Regions from separate parts of the Homo sapiens genome. Here regions 1 and 3 are each linked to region 2. The links come from fine-mapping of genetic effects on gene expression. Tissue or cell type: whole blood. Region 2 holds a variant in brackets; each other region holds the start of a gene. Each region is shown on its reference strand, or each on the opposite one.

Region 1 (2,730 bases), not on the chromosome of region 2:
GATCCGGTCCCCGTCGGTCCGCGGGGCTCTCGCTGGAGCCTCCCCGACTCCGGTTTCCCCTCGTCCAGAAGCCCGACGTAACCAAAGCCCAGTCTGTCACTTTAAACACGCCCCGCCCCGCCTCCCGCGGCTGTGTTGCCTCCTCGCTGGAGAACACCCTGGTCGACCTCTGTGCGTCCGTGTGCGCGAGCGCGTCCCGCCGAGGCGGTGGGCAGGGCGGACGGTGCGCAGTGCGTTCCCGCTGGTCGGAGCCAGCACACTAACCACGCCACGCGCCCTGCCGTCCCTTCGCCTCCAGCCGCTGCAGTCTGGGCCCTGCAGGAGCTGGGAAAAACCGCAGGGAGGTCTTCAGGCCGATATGCAAGTCTCCCAGCCGAAGGGGCAGGGGACCTGAACAGGGGAAGCAGAGCACCTGGGCCTGGCCAGAGCTGACACCTGGCTAGGAGAGGAAGGACCAAGGGACGGGGCGTTCCCAGGTGGGAGCCTGGAGGGCAAAGCGTGGTGCGAGCAGGTGAGGGAGAGAGCTAGTTGGTAAGCGTGGAAGCCCACCCGAGGGGGCTTGACCTGTCCCGAGAGGTCCCCGCACACCCGCTCTGGCCGCACGCCGTACTGCGGGCGTGGAGGCGCAAGCCCGGCGGCCCGGCCTCCACCTGTCCCCCAAGTGCACCCTGGTCCGCGCCCAGAGCTCTCTGGAGGGTGGGGTATGCGGGAGAGGGGTGGAGGCCAAACGCAAGGGCCCTCCTGGAGTCCCCAGCCCTACTTCGGAGCCAGGGGAGGGGGCACCAAGTGAGAGAAATTGGGCACCCCCGCCTCCGCTCCTGCTTTCGCACCCGGCACGCCCATCTCGTCCCCGCGCGTCTGCACCGGCCAGGCGTCCCGCTTGCCCACCCGCCGCCGCGCCCCGCGCCCCCTACCCCAGGGCCTCTGCATTCGGCCCCACCCCTGAGGGCCGGCCGGGAACGCCCCTGGACCGGAATAATTTCCAGGGGGCAAGAGCTTTCGAACCAAGTAAAATAGAACTTGAATGTAGCGGCTGCCGTTGCCTCCTTGTACCGGTAGCGGGGTTGGGGACGGAAGCCTTCGGTCGGTGGAGAGGAGAAAGGGAGAGGCCTTCGGGCGGTGGACGGGGAAGAGAGGGAGTCCTTCGGGCGGTGGAGGGGGTGGAGAGCGAGGCCTTCGGGCGGTGGAGAGCGGGGAGGGGGGAGGCCTTCGGGCGGTGGGAGGGGGAGAGAGGGAGGCCTTTGGGCGGTGGGGGCCACGGGGAGGGTGGTCTTCGGACTACGTGCGGGACAGGAGGTCAGGGCTGGCAAGTCCCTCAGGCCTCCCTCGTTGCCCCAGCCTCGCGGGCCGCCTAACTGCCCCGTTCCAAGGGTGCCACCGGACCCCGCTGGAGAGGAACTTCTCCGTTGGCTGGATTTCATCACCACCCATTCCCGATTCCACGTTTCCTTTAAGCGGGGCTGGCGGAGCCGCAAGGCGGCAAGGAACTGGATTGCGATTGGTCAGCACGTGCCTCGGTCGGCGGTACAATTGGCTGAGGCGCTGGGCCTTGGGAAGCATTCCCCGACGGGATTGGTCGTCGCTCTCGCAGAGCCCGCCTCCCGCAGTACAAGCGGCCCCCGGGTCGGGTGGGAGGAGGGGACTCCGGGAGGAGGAACATGGCGGTGGCGGACCTCGCTCTCATTCCTGATGTGGACATCGACTCCGACGGCGTCTTCAAGTATGTGCTGATCCGAGTCCACTCGGCTCCCCGCTCCGGGGCTCCGGCTGCAGAGAGCAAGGAGATCGTGCGCGGCTACAAGTGGGCTGAGTACCATGGTGAGGGCGGGACCTGCGGGCATGCCAGGGGCACGCCTGGCGAGGCGGGGGCGGGGCTGGCGGGACGGAGACGGGGCTGACGAGGCAGGGGCGGGGCTGGCGGGGCGGGGGCGGGGCTGCGGGCCGTAGCGGACTGCGCTCTGCTCCGAGTCCTGCCCCTGCTAGGTTTGACCCAGGCTGAGGTCCTGGGCGGGAAGGGCGTGACACGGCCTGACACCCTCCCCAGCAGTCTCCCAGTTCCCGCGCCCTCCCCGGTTCCACCCTCCTTCGCTCATTCATCCCTGTCCCAGCCTCAAGGGGCTTCGTCTCTCCTGGGGAAGGGGCTGTTCAGAGCTGGGATTTCAGACCCCTTCGGCTGGGAGTTCCTCCCGCGGCCTCCAAGGGCGGCCAGGGCACGTCCTGAGGCCGCCCTCCCATCCCAGCGGACATCTACGACAAAGTGTCGGGCGACATGCAGAAGCAAGGCTGCGACTGTGAGTGTCTGGGCGGCGGGCGCATCTCCCACCAGAGTCAGGACAAGAAGATTCACGTGTACGGCTATTCCATGGTGAGCCGCAGCCCCGTCCCGCCCTGCCGGAGGCCCCAGTACCAGCTTCGAGGCCCACCTGAGCCTGCTGCCCTGACCCGTGGCCCCAGCTGAGCACGCAGGCTTCCTGGGGTTCTCCCAGGGTCGGCGGCAGAGCCCTCCCTCCAGGGCCCATTGTGTTCCTGCATTCCCCCATGGAGCACACGCCAGACCTGAGGGGTGGGACGGACACCCCCAGACATGGCCGGCTGTCTCCTCTCCCTGCCTTGGGAGGCCTTGCTGGGCTCTAGCTGTCCTCCAGCACTTTGGGCCCTGGGCCCCCAGAGGCAGTCAGTACCTGGGTGGAGCTCAGAGTCCCCACCTGTGCTCTTCACAAAAACCACCAG
Region 2 (2,760 bases):
TATCTACATAAAGTGTTTTTGTTTTGTTCTGCTTTGTGTAGATAGCATATAGTTTCAATATAAAAGCAAGACCCTCTGACAGTCTCTGTCTTTAAAAGAGGTGGTTTAAGCCATTTATATTTAATGTGATTATTGATATGGTTACATTTAGATCTATTATTATTTGTCTCATCAATTTTGTTCTGCCTTCTTCTGATATAAGTATTTTTTATGGATCTGCTTTCTTTTATTGGCTTATTAGCTATTGACTTTGTTTTGGTTATTTTAGTAGTTTCTTTAGGGCTAAAGTACATATTTTTAACTTATAAGTTTATCTTCAGAGATCTCTACTGAGATAAACAATATGTTGTAGATAATAAAGCTGCAATATTTTAAAATAGGAACAGCCTGCAGCTTTGACTCATGGAGAAACTGGTTATTTCTCCTGAGTCTTTATTCTCCTGGAAATTACTGTTCTTTCATGCTCTAATAAATGTCAGCCAAGCACTTCTAGAAAAGTGTTTTATGATTAATACTTAGGACTGAAACGTCATCCTTGAACATTAGCACTTTTTTTCCTAAAGTCATTTCTCTAGCCTACTTAACAATGTTAAGAATTTCCAAGTCCATGGTAATTTACTTATGAAACTAACCTATCTTAAATTTTTACTCTGCTTTCTTGAGGTGTTCAGAATGAGAATTATACATTGGCCATAACCTGAGAAAGGATCAGAGATGTTTTATATTCCACTATTAATAGTCTCTCACAAGCATGTAGAATCTAAGTGAATGTTTTCTCATTTCTTATCTCACTTTCTCAGCAAGACACGCCTATAAAATAGGAAGAACAGGCGATTTTACAGAGGAAGAAACTCAGGGCCCAAGAGTTAAGGTTCCTTACCACCAGGTCACTCAGTGTATTAGTGGCAAAATTGGAACCCAAAGCCTGGTCTTCCTCTTTTTGGTGCCATACCACTTCACGCTCATCCTTGACTTAATACCACTGTCATAATTGGAAGCCATAATTGAAGCCTTTTCCTTAGGCTTCCTTGCAGAGGTAGCTAATGGTAGTTTGGTGTTTCCCCAAGGAAGCTTTTTGCGTTTTGGCTGGGCTAGGGAAGCTGGGATTAATAGCTGAGTAAACATTCATATGTGACAGAACAAATATGACAGAGAAATGGGTTTTTTTCCAGCCTTAATCTAGAAGCGGAGCATGACTAATGAATGAGTCGTTTTTATTTGTAGCTGAAATATTATAACCCATAGTAATA[C/T]ATTTTGCTCAAAGGGAGATCAGTGGAGATGATAAGAGCCAGTGGCTATATATATTAATATGCAAATAACTACATTCTGTTGAGTATCAAAGGATAGGGCCTGGCTTATAGTCCTGAACTGCCCTTATTTTTTCAGTGACCATGGATCTATTTTTATTCTGAATCCCAGGTCCTTGGTTGTCTGAAGAATGAAGATGAAGCAAATTCTTTGAAGTATTTAGAGCCAGAGGGTGCAGCTGGATGCATAGAAGGAATGTTGGGCCAAGAATAGAGAAATATGGGTTCTAGGTCTAGCTCTGCCCTTGATTGATGATTTGAGGCAAAGCATTTAAACCTCAGTAGTAATAATACGTACTTAATACGATTGCTGAGAGTATTAAATGAAATATTGGTAAAGTGTTTAGCATTGTGTGGTGCCTAGCTCAATGCATAGCAACTATCACTTTCTTCATTCTTCTGGTACCTAACTGTAATGTTGGGCAATTGTCTTTCCCCATTTGAACTTAGTTTCTCCATTTCTAAAGAGTGAATTTGTTGTATTGTAGGACCTTTCCAACACTGACCTTTTATGATATGATTATGAATTGGTTATCTTTCCACAAGCTTGTGACCTCCTGGTGTTGCTGTGATTATAGTGGTCATCAGTCTGAGAGAGGTTGTTCTATTGATTCTGATGTGCTCTTTATTTACAGACCACTACATATACCCGCCGGGGCCATGGGACATGCACCAGCCCAGGGTGCTCCTTTACATATGTCACCAGGCACAAGCCACCTAAGTGCCCTACCTGTGGTAACTTCCTAGGAGGGAAGTGGATCCCAAAGGTAAGGTCCATTGGCTGTTGCTGCTTTGGAAGCCTCACAGAATAGACTTTCTGTTTGCCATTAGGAACAGGTGATTTTTAAAAAGTTAACATTTGTTTTTACTGTCTGACTATACAAGTAAATCATTTCCATTGTATATAGTTTGTTTAAAAAATACAAAAGAAAAATGGAATAAATTGTTATCCAAACTCATATACCATCCAAAGAAAAGCCATTATTAACATTTTGGTGTACTTCTTTCCAGTCTTTTTTTCTGTGAATAAGTTCTGTATCTGTTTTTTTCTTCTTCTTTCCCTTCTTTTTTTTTTCCAGTAGAGATGGGGTCTTCCTTTGTTGCTCTGGCCTCAAACAGTCTCCTGTCTCGGCCTCCCAAAGTGCTGGGATTACAGCACTGTGAGCACTGTTTTCCCTTTTATTTTTCTTTCTGTTTTTTCGTGGATATCTCCAATACTATAATATTTTGCTTTTTTTAATTTAACATATCATGCCTTTAAATAGTCTTCAAAATAGTACCTGTTTCATAATTTCCATGAACTACTACACCATGTTTATTTACTTGTTTCTGTCATCCCCCCGTCTGTATATAGAGATGTCTGTATCTATATGTCTTTAACATTTTTATTTAACACTCATCATCAGTTAACAATGTTTCTGTTTATGTCACATTGTGAGTTCCTTAATGACCT
Region 3 (2,760 bases), not on the chromosome of region 2:
GTGCAATGGCACAATCTCAGCTCACCGCAACCTCTGCCTCCCCGGTTCAAGCAATTCTCCTGCCTCAGCTTTCCGAGTAGCTGGGATTACAGGCATGCACCACCACGCCCAGCTAATTTTGTATTTTTAGTAGAGACAGGGTTTCTCCATGTTGATCAGGCTGGTCTCGAACTCCTGACCTCAGGTGATCCGCCCACCTTGGCCTCCCAAAGTGCTGGGATTACAGGCGTGAGCCACCGCGCCCGGCATAAAATGTTCTTGACATGAGATTTACTTTCTTTACCTATGCTGTTATTCCCTCTAAATATATTGCTTGTTTATTGGATTTCATTTCCTCTTTCCAACAAACCCACATTATTTTGATTTGGGGACAAATTGGGAAGACAGTGATTTTCTTTAACAGCCCAGTGGATTCTGCTTCCTTCTAATTCAAAGTATGGAGATTAAAACTGTTAACAAGTCTAGGCATTAAAAAAAAAAATAGCTCTAGATGGGGCGTGGTGGCTCACGCCTGTAATCCCAGCACTTTGGGAGGCCGAGGCGGGTGGATCACCTGAGGTCAGGAGTTCGAGACCAGCCTGACCAACATAGAGAAACCCCGTCTCTACTAAAAATACAAAATTAGCTGGGCATGGTGGCACATGCCTGTAATCCCAGCTACTCGGGAGGCTGAGGCAGGAGAATCGCTTGAACCTGGGAGGCGGATGTTGCGGTGAGCTGAGATCGCACCATTGTACTCCAGCCTGGGCTCGAAACTCCATCTCAAAAAAAAAAAAAAAAAATAGCTCTAATGCAATTAATCCAAAACAGTGAAACTGAGTTTACCTCAGATATCCCCTACCATCCCAGTCAACATATAGTAGTCCTGTTTTTAGGATTTCTCTCTCCTTTCTTTCCCGTCTTCCTTTAGGGAAATGCTTTGGGGTAGGAAGCAACAAACCAAACAGCAGCAGGCAAGTAAAATCAGCTCTTTTCTATTTCCCCACTGGGATAGTACAGAAGAGGGAGCAAGAACTCATCATCAAAGAGAACTGAGACTTAGGCGTACCATTCTAAAAAGCCCTTGTTCCTTGTCTCCCTTGCCTCTTCCGCCCCCCTCAGCTCTGCAGTAATTCCTCAGAGATTGTACAGTCTCTCCACTTTAAATATAAATATATAAATATAAATATATATATGTATAAACTTCCCCCTGTCTTTCTCTCCTCTCTTTTTTTTAATTTTCTATAATAAAGTTTCCTATTGGATAAGGTCAGCTCCCTGATTTATGCCTGGTTCCTATTGGAAGCTCACAGGGGCTGACATCACTTAGGAAAGCGAAGGGGGTAGGGCTGCCAGATCAGTTTGTCACCACCCAGGCTCCCTTGCCTTTGGCTGGGTGCAACTTCCATTTTAGGTGTTGGATCTGAGGGGGAAAAAAAAGAGAGAGGGAGAGAGAGAGAAAGAAGAGCAGGAAAGATCCCGAAAGGAGGAAGAGGTGGCGAAAAATCAACTGCCCTGCTGGATTTGTCTTTCTCAGCACCTTGGCGAAGCCTTGGGTTTCTTTCTTAAAGGACTGATTTTTAGAACTCCACATTTGAGGTGTGTGGCTTTTGAAGAAAATGTATGTACTGACGGGAAAAGGAGGATAAGCAAGTCGAATTTTTGTCTTACGGTAACCGGAGGGAATTAAAAAACGGGAGAGTCTGTTATGCTGATGAGTAACTTTTAAGCAATTATTTTTCTTTTCTACTTTCAGTACTTTGGCGGGGGAGATTTTGGTATTTTATTATATTTAAAAAGGTAAAATATACAAGACCTAGAAACAAACTTCTAGGTCTCTTTAATACAGGAAGCTGAATAGATCCAGAGGGGTAAGAGCAGGTTTGAAAATTTACATTTTGGTGTGTTCTTTGATTTTATTTATTTATTTTTCTGGATTAAGCTAACATATTTCTGTTTTCAGAGCCCAAATCAAAAGTTGGTTTTTTGGCATGTTGCATGTGGGTTGGGAAAGAAATTTGTCCGTGTCGGAACCCAGTTATACCGATGGTTCTTCATATGTTTAAAACTTTTTTTTTCTTTTATCATTGGATTTGTGGAAGTGGAAAGTTGCAGGGAGCTTTGCAGTGTAAATGGTATTGTTTTTCCCCCAGAGAGTTTGAACGGCCCGTATCGGTTTCAGCCCTGCTGTTCCTGGGTGGATCCCTCTTACTTTTCCAGGTGCGGTGGGTGGGAGCCTCATTCTCCTGCTAGATGTAGTCTCCCTTCTTTGGCTTATAAAAGAAAACAAATGGAACCATGTTAACTGAATTGCCATCTCCTTCTTCCTTCTAAACTACCTTTGATAGCAAAGATTTGTGGAGGTGTTTGTTAAATCTGCAAATACGATAACGTTTGGTTTATGTGTTTAAAGGGATAAGGAAATTCTAATCATGCTTTTTATTTCACCTGAGTAAAGTGGCAACATACCTGAAAATATTTTCAGCTTTTTGCACTCTGAAAGGGCCAAGGGTGGAATAAAATTAGGTTTAGAAAAACCATTTATACAAAGTTTAGTGTTTAAAATACATTTCAGAAAACAAGGGAGATTTTTATTTTTAAACCAACCTGAAAGTTGTTTTTTGGAGTTGAATTTATTGTTTAGTTAATTTACCATGAAATCTGAAATCTCTTAGAGCTGAAGGCCCATGACTGTGCTTTCATATCTTATATTTAATCTTAAGATTTGTTTTGTTTTTGCAAATACATTCTTGCAAAAGTACGGATTCTAGATAATTATAT

The links. PIP is the estimated chance that this variant, and not a neighbour inherited with it, causes the effect. A credible set is the group of variants that fine-mapping cannot tell apart.
Region 1: it holds the start of PHPT1, and the variant in region 2 is the best candidate, but not a certain one, in a credible set for the expression of PHPT1 in whole blood (TOPMed, PIP 0.64).
Region 3: it holds the start of CTNND1, and the variant in region 2 is the best candidate, but not a certain one, in a credible set for the expression of CTNND1 in whole blood (TOPMed, PIP 0.85).

What each region holds. Positions count from the first base shown.
Region 1 is chr9:136,847,773-136,850,502 of GRCh38, forward strand. PHPT1 (phosphohistidine phosphatase 1) reads left to right here and starts at 1,637. Exons shown (of 3, transcript NM_014172.6): 1 at 1,637-1,818; 2 at 2,241-2,365. The coding sequence starts at 1,659. AJM1 (apical junction component 1 homolog) reads left to right here. Exons shown (of 3, transcript NM_001080482.5): 3 at 1-1,029. RefSeq lists silencers at 579-808, 1,029-1,088, 1,169-1,248, 1,429-1,488, 1,879-1,958 and 1 more and an enhancer at 1,609-1,888.
Region 2 is chr5:150,016,624-150,019,383 of GRCh38, forward strand. HMGXB3 (HMG-box containing 3) reads left to right here. Exons shown (of 20, transcript NM_014983.3): 6 at 1,943-2,074. Among named protein-coding and RNA genes, the nearest start is that of HMGXB3, 17 kb to the left of the region's middle. The variant C/T (reference allele first, on the strand shown) is at 1,251.
Region 3 is chr11:57,760,469-57,763,228 of GRCh38, forward strand. It overlaps CTNND1 (catenin delta 1), which reads left to right and starts at 1,334. Exons shown (of 21, transcript NM_001085458.2): 1 at 1,334-1,651. All of the region lies in intron 2 of TMX2-CTNND1 (TMX2-CTNND1 readthrough (NMD candidate)), which reads left to right.